Linked DNA regions of Homo sapiens: region 2 is linked to region 1. Evidence: fine-mapped expression QTL. A gene starts in region 1. The other region holds a variant in brackets. All regions are shown on one strand. Distances are from middle to middle.

The links. PIP is the estimated chance that this variant, and not a neighbour inherited with it, causes the effect.
Region 2: its variant is the best candidate, but not a certain one, in a credible set for the expression of NTRK2 in thyroid (GTEx, PIP 0.54).

The regions. Positions count from the first base shown.
Region 1 is chr9:84,668,230-84,671,145 of GRCh38, reverse strand. It overlaps NTRK2 (neurotrophic receptor tyrosine kinase 2), which reads right to left and starts at 1,417. Exons shown (of 19, transcript NM_006180.6): 1 at 1,258-1,417; 2 at 186-769. The coding sequence starts at 397. RefSeq lists a silencer at 2,673-2,892.
Region 2 is chr9:84,484,326-84,487,241 of GRCh38, reverse strand. All of the region lies in intron 2 of LOC102724036 (a long non-coding RNA gene), which reads right to left. Among named protein-coding and RNA genes, the nearest start is that of SLC28A3, 150 kb to the right of the region's middle. The variant A/G (reference allele first, on the strand shown) is at 1,271.

The sequences.
Region 1 (2,916 bases):
TCTCCCTGCACTAGCAGTCCCAAGCCAGTGAAACAGCAGGTAACTGACAGATGACCCTGTCCTGCATCCCTTGTCTTTGACTTCTCCCCACTCTTGGGACAGCATTCACTTCCAGGACCTACCCACCTGGCCAGCTCGGGCCCTAGGGGCAAGGAGAAAAAGGAGGAAAAGCTCCAGGAACTCACATTTCGGTGATGTTCTCAGGATCTACACTGTTAGGCTCCAATCTCGGAAATGCCACGATGCCAGGAGAAGGGTCGCTGCACCAGATCCGAGAGGCACTGCATTTGCAGGACGTGGGACAGGCGAAAGCGGCCCTCCAGAAGCCCACAACCAGCCAGCAGAAGCCCCAGAGCCGCGCCATGGCGGGTCCATGCCACCTTATCCAGGACGACATCCCTAGCAGCCAGTGCCAGCCCGAGTGCCTGTCCCCGCGCTGCACCGGCCGCTTTCCCCCACCCGTGCGGGGAGGCCTTCCCTGCGCTTGCGGCTCTCTTAACTCCTCGGTGCTTGTTGCGGGCGTGCCGAGTCCAGCTTATCAGAGGCTGAGCTGGTCCGGAGCGAAGAGTGTTCCGGCAGGCGGCAGGGTTCACAGTGGCCCCGGCATAGCGAACCGCTTTACAGGGGGGCGCTACCGCTGCTCGGAGCTCCGCGGCGGCCGTCGCTGCATGGCCCGGCGCGCCGGGCACCGACCGGCGGCGCTCCCGGGACTCTCTGGGGCGCAGATTCCTTGTTAGATGCGAATGGGGGTCCGGTATGCACCTCGAGGCTGAGGACAAACAGACACGCGTAAGACTGAGCGTAGGACCCCCAACACCACTAATTGGGGCACTCTCCCTCTCTGCTCGCGTCATCCCCACCCCGACCCCAGCCCGGAGACTGTGGATGGATGAGTGCCCAGCTCCGGCCCAGGAATCAACTTGCCCCGCGATGGCACTGACGCCGCTGGAGCCACCAGTGTGCCCACTCTCTCTTCGAGCCTGAGGCCAAGGGAGGGGAGGTAGGGAAAGGGTCCCCAAGACAGGATTCCATGGTACAGGCCGGGCGAAGGACCCTTTAAAGGGGAATGCGGAGACTGCCGGCGGCTTTGGCTCCGCGACGGGGCCCCCGAATGATGCTGCAGAATCCGCCACGGCCGCTGGGTGCCGGTGGCGCGGGCAGGTGGCGCGGCACGTCCCACCTGGGGAGTAGCCGAGGCCGCCCCAGGGGGAGACAGTGAGGGCCGAGGCGACCGAGGGCACTATCTGCGCTGCTCACCCGGGCTCCGGCGCCTCACGCCCGCCGGCGGCGCCTGGGTCCAGGCTCCTGCTACCGCCGGGGACTGAGCGCGTAGAGCGCGAGCGAAGCAGCCAGCGAGGCTCCTGCTCCAACCCAATTCCGGGAGCCGCCGCCGCCGCCTCTGCTACTGCTGGCGAAGTGACGTGAGGGCTGACGCAGAGCAGGGGCAGAAACTCCAGAAAATTAGTCTGAAATCCAAAAACACACACACGCTCATACACACACAAACCCATAACACCCTCCAGACAAAAGCACCAGGGAGGGGAGGGGAATCTGGGGGCGAGCAGGGAGGAGGGAGGCATCGGTGCCACTGGCCAGAAGCAGACAGCAGCAGCATGTGGGAGTTCACACACGCGCGCACACACGCACACATCCTGGCCGTGTAGACATGCACGCGCGTGCGTGTGTGTGTCTGTGTGTGTGTGTGCATTTACATCCAGGTACCTCTAAGATGAACCGTTCCTCCGTTCGACGCCTCCCGGTCCCTAATTCACACCACAGTCTCTTCTACAATCGCGGTAGAGGCTGTCTCCCTTTTTGAAATGGAAACCGTGCTTGGTTCAGCTCTGAAAAATGCGCTGATTCTTATTATAGGAATCCTCCCTCCCTTCTCCCTCCCCGCGTTCTCCTTTCCCACCCTGCCTAAAAGGGAGGGCAAGCTATCCTAAAAATAAATAAATGTTGTAAACACCAAAACGTGTTCTGCATTGGTAACCAAGGATCACCGCCCCCATTCCGGGCCACCTATTTGGGGATCGGTGGTTTTGGAGGGGCTTCCTGTTGGTGCTTTTGCAGAGGGAAGGGAGTCTCCAAACACAATTCTAGCTCTCTAAGTGGGTCTTTTTCCTGCCGTTTTCTGCCATCACACGCCCGGGAAATAGAGACATGTGAGGGGAAGGGAGCGCGCCTGATGCGTATTCTAAATGCTCGGTGGCCACCCTGGCCTGTCCGATGTGTGGCGCCGCGTCATTTTCTCTCATCCTTTAACCTGACGGGATGTAGCCATTCCCAGATCGTGGATTCACTCCCCGCGATGCCCACCCCCACGTAGGGCATCCCAAGCCCTTGCTCCCCTGCCGTACCTTGCGCGTGTTCATGTGTGCTAGGGTGTGCGCGAACGCGTGCCCTGCGCCCGCGCTGCCCGGAGCACGATATGCATCCAGCTACGAAGAAGCCAGGCGCGGGCAGAGCCTCGGGGTCTCACTAGGGACAAATTAGGCGATCCGGGAGGGTCGGGTGACAAACCGTAACTATTCTGCGGGTGCAGTTAAATGATGGCTGCGGGGCATTTGCAAGCCTTGTCTGAGAATCCGTCTTCCCTTTTGCGGCTCGGAATCTGTTTTTCCGCAGTCATTTAAAAGAGAACGGGGAAAATACACCGCAGTGCCTGACACTTCCGAGGGCTCTGGTGCCCCCGCGCGGGGAGAGAGCGCCCGGCACGCTCCGGAGCACCAGCCCATGGCCCGGGTCGCGGCGGGCACAGCGCTGGGGGCGCGCTCTGGCGCCAGATGCGCAACCAGCGGCGCCCGACGCCTGCGCGTCCCTGCCCGGCCGGTGCGCGGCTCTCCTGGCCTCGCCGAGCTCCTGCCCGGGGGAAAAAGGCGGGCAATCCTTCTCTCTCGAGAGAGCAATGGGTTG
Region 2 (2,916 bases), 180 kb after region 1:
CTATTTGTAATGTTTTGAGGAGTCTTTATACTGTTTTCCCCTATGGCTGTACCAATTAGTGCAATCCCACAGTTGAATAATCCCACTTATCCAAAGTAAATGAAATCAGTATCTCAAAGAGATATCTGTACCTTCGTGTTTGTCACAGAGCTATTCACAATAACCAAGATATGGAAACAACCTACATGTTCATCAGTGGATAAATGGATAAAGAAAATGTACACACACACACACACATACACACTGGAATTATTCAGCCATAAAAATGGCAGACATAAAAAATGTCTGCCATTTGAGACAATGTAAATGAGCCTGGAGGACACTATGCTAAGTGAAATAAGCCAGGCACAGAAAGACAAATACTGTGTGATCTCACTCATCTGTGGAAACTAAAAATGTCATAGTCATAGAAACAGAGAATAGAATTGTGGTTGCCAGAAGCTGCAGGAATGGGAGACATGGGGAGATGTTAATCAAAGGGTACAAACTTTAAGTTATAAGGTGATCTAAGGCACAGCATGGGTAGCATGTTAATTAATTCGATTGTGATAATTGTTACACAGTATATACATATATTAAACCATCATTGTACACCTTAAATATACACAATCATTGTCAATAATTAAATATTAAATAAATACTTTAAAATTGAAAATGAAATGAAAATAGATGCCAGGACAGTGGCTCATGCCTGTAATCCCAGCATTTTGGGAGGCCGAGGCAGGTGGATCACCTGAGGTCAGGAGTTCGAGACAAGCCTGGATAACATGGCAAAACCCTGTCTTTACTAAAAATACAAAAATTAGCTGGGCTTGGTGATGGACTCCTGTAATCCCAGCTACTCAGGAGGCAGAGACAGGAGAATCACTTGAACCCTAGAAGTGGAGGTTGCAGTGAGCTGAGATCGTGCCACTGCACTCCAGCCTGGGTGACAAGAGCAAAACTCCGTCTCAAAAAAAAAAAAAAAAAAAAAAGAAAGAAAAAAATAGAAGCCAGCTTACTCCTAGCATATTTCTTTGGATCATTATTTCCAAAGCTCTCCCTTCAAGGTCTGTCACATTTATCCTTCTTTTTTCCATAACAATTACTCCACATCAAATCCAAATAGTGACCACTCAATAAATATTTGTTGAATGAATACATGAATGAACAAATGAATGAACTGCAGACCGTACATAGACCTCACAAGATACAAGCAATTTTCCAACTTCCCATTCTTTCTCAGTTCTCATCCATCCTGTAGCCTTGCCAAGCTAGTCCTGCCCCAAAC[A/G]TCACTCTCCATGCATCCATGCACCAGCCTCTTACTGAAGAACTACCAACTCTAAAGTAATTGGTTTAACAGTGAGAATCCTCCCTTACTTAGTTCCAGCTGACTAGACTTGGCCATCTTTGCTTACATTGGTCCCCTTCCTGGGAATGAGCTGTCTGTTCAGTTTCCGAGATGGCAGGGCTTCCCAACAGGTCAGAACACAAATATAGCCTAGGGCCACTCCCATTACACCAGGTTGTTCATTCCAAAGGCCAACAGTGAGGTCCGGAAACAAACAGCTAGAAACATGTTGACATTTGATTAACACAGCTGCACTGAAGTGCTCTGAGATTTTGGTAGCAATAAGTATTTATCTAAGTGCTTGTCAAACTTTAATAGGTGCAGGAATCACCTAAGAGTCTGAGATTCTGCATTTCTAGTAAACTCCCTGGAGATGATAACGATACTGACCCATGGATCACACTCTGAGTACCAAGGCTCTAGAATAGGAATTACTAGACTTGGCTGCACAATGGTATTATCTGGAGCATTAAAAATACTAGTAGCTGGGCCAGGTGTGGTGGCTCACACCTGTAATCCTAGCACTTTGGGAGGCCCAGGCAGGAGGATCCCTTGAGCTCAGGAGTTTAAGACCTGCATAACGTTGGGAGACCCTGTCTCGAGAAAAAGAGAGAGAGAGAGAGAGAAAGGAAGGAAGGAAGGAAAGAGGGAAAGAAATTAAAAAAAATACTAGTGGCTGAAACCAATCCAAGAGATTGTGATCTAATTGGTCTGGAGTACAGCCTAGGCATCAACATTTTTAAAACTCTTTCAATAATTCTAGTGTGTAACCAACACTGAGAACCACTGCCCAAGACGAACGTTTCTCCATCTTTTTTTTTTCATTATTTTTCCCTTAGGAGGCTTTTTAGACATTTTTATCCCTAAATACCCTCAAATTTTACCATTACAGATATACTGTATATCCATGTGTTGTACACATACCTTTGATTTATATCAAAAAAATTATTTAAAAGATTTTGCTCTCTGAGAACCAATTTCATCCTCTTGGGGGTGACATTGCTCCCATTGAGAACATACGCTTTAGAGTCTAAAGTTATACATGGTCTAAAATTTCAACTATGCCTAAGGCCTGGTTTTGCCCAAGCATCCACATGTCAGTCTCCACACAAATCCCCTCCAGTGGAGGCAGCAGTTCTCAGCCCCAAAGAGCCAGGCTGGAGAGAAACCACAGGAAGGTGGTCAGATCGATGCATCTGCAACCCCTGCATCCTAAGCCATGATTGGCTACAAGGCCTGAAATTCCTTTGTGCTTTCCAGGACCTCATTGGAGGCAGCCACAAAGGACAGTGTATATCCTGTCCAATCCAAACAAGTAAACTATGGTGTTTGCCAGCCTATCCCTACTTGTGTTCACAGCCAAGCCTTTCTTTAGACTGCCCAATAGCAACATCTGCCTGGAGACAAATGGGTTCTCCATCACTGCCTAAAGCAAAATGTCTACGGGAGACACTTTAATATATGTACTAATTCCTAACACTTGCTCAGGTTACACAGTAACTCGTATACATAGTGGCAGTATGGGTCACAGCTATGGGCGTGGGAAACAGCATTGCAGTCTAAAGGCCGAAGAAGCTGAACTCCAA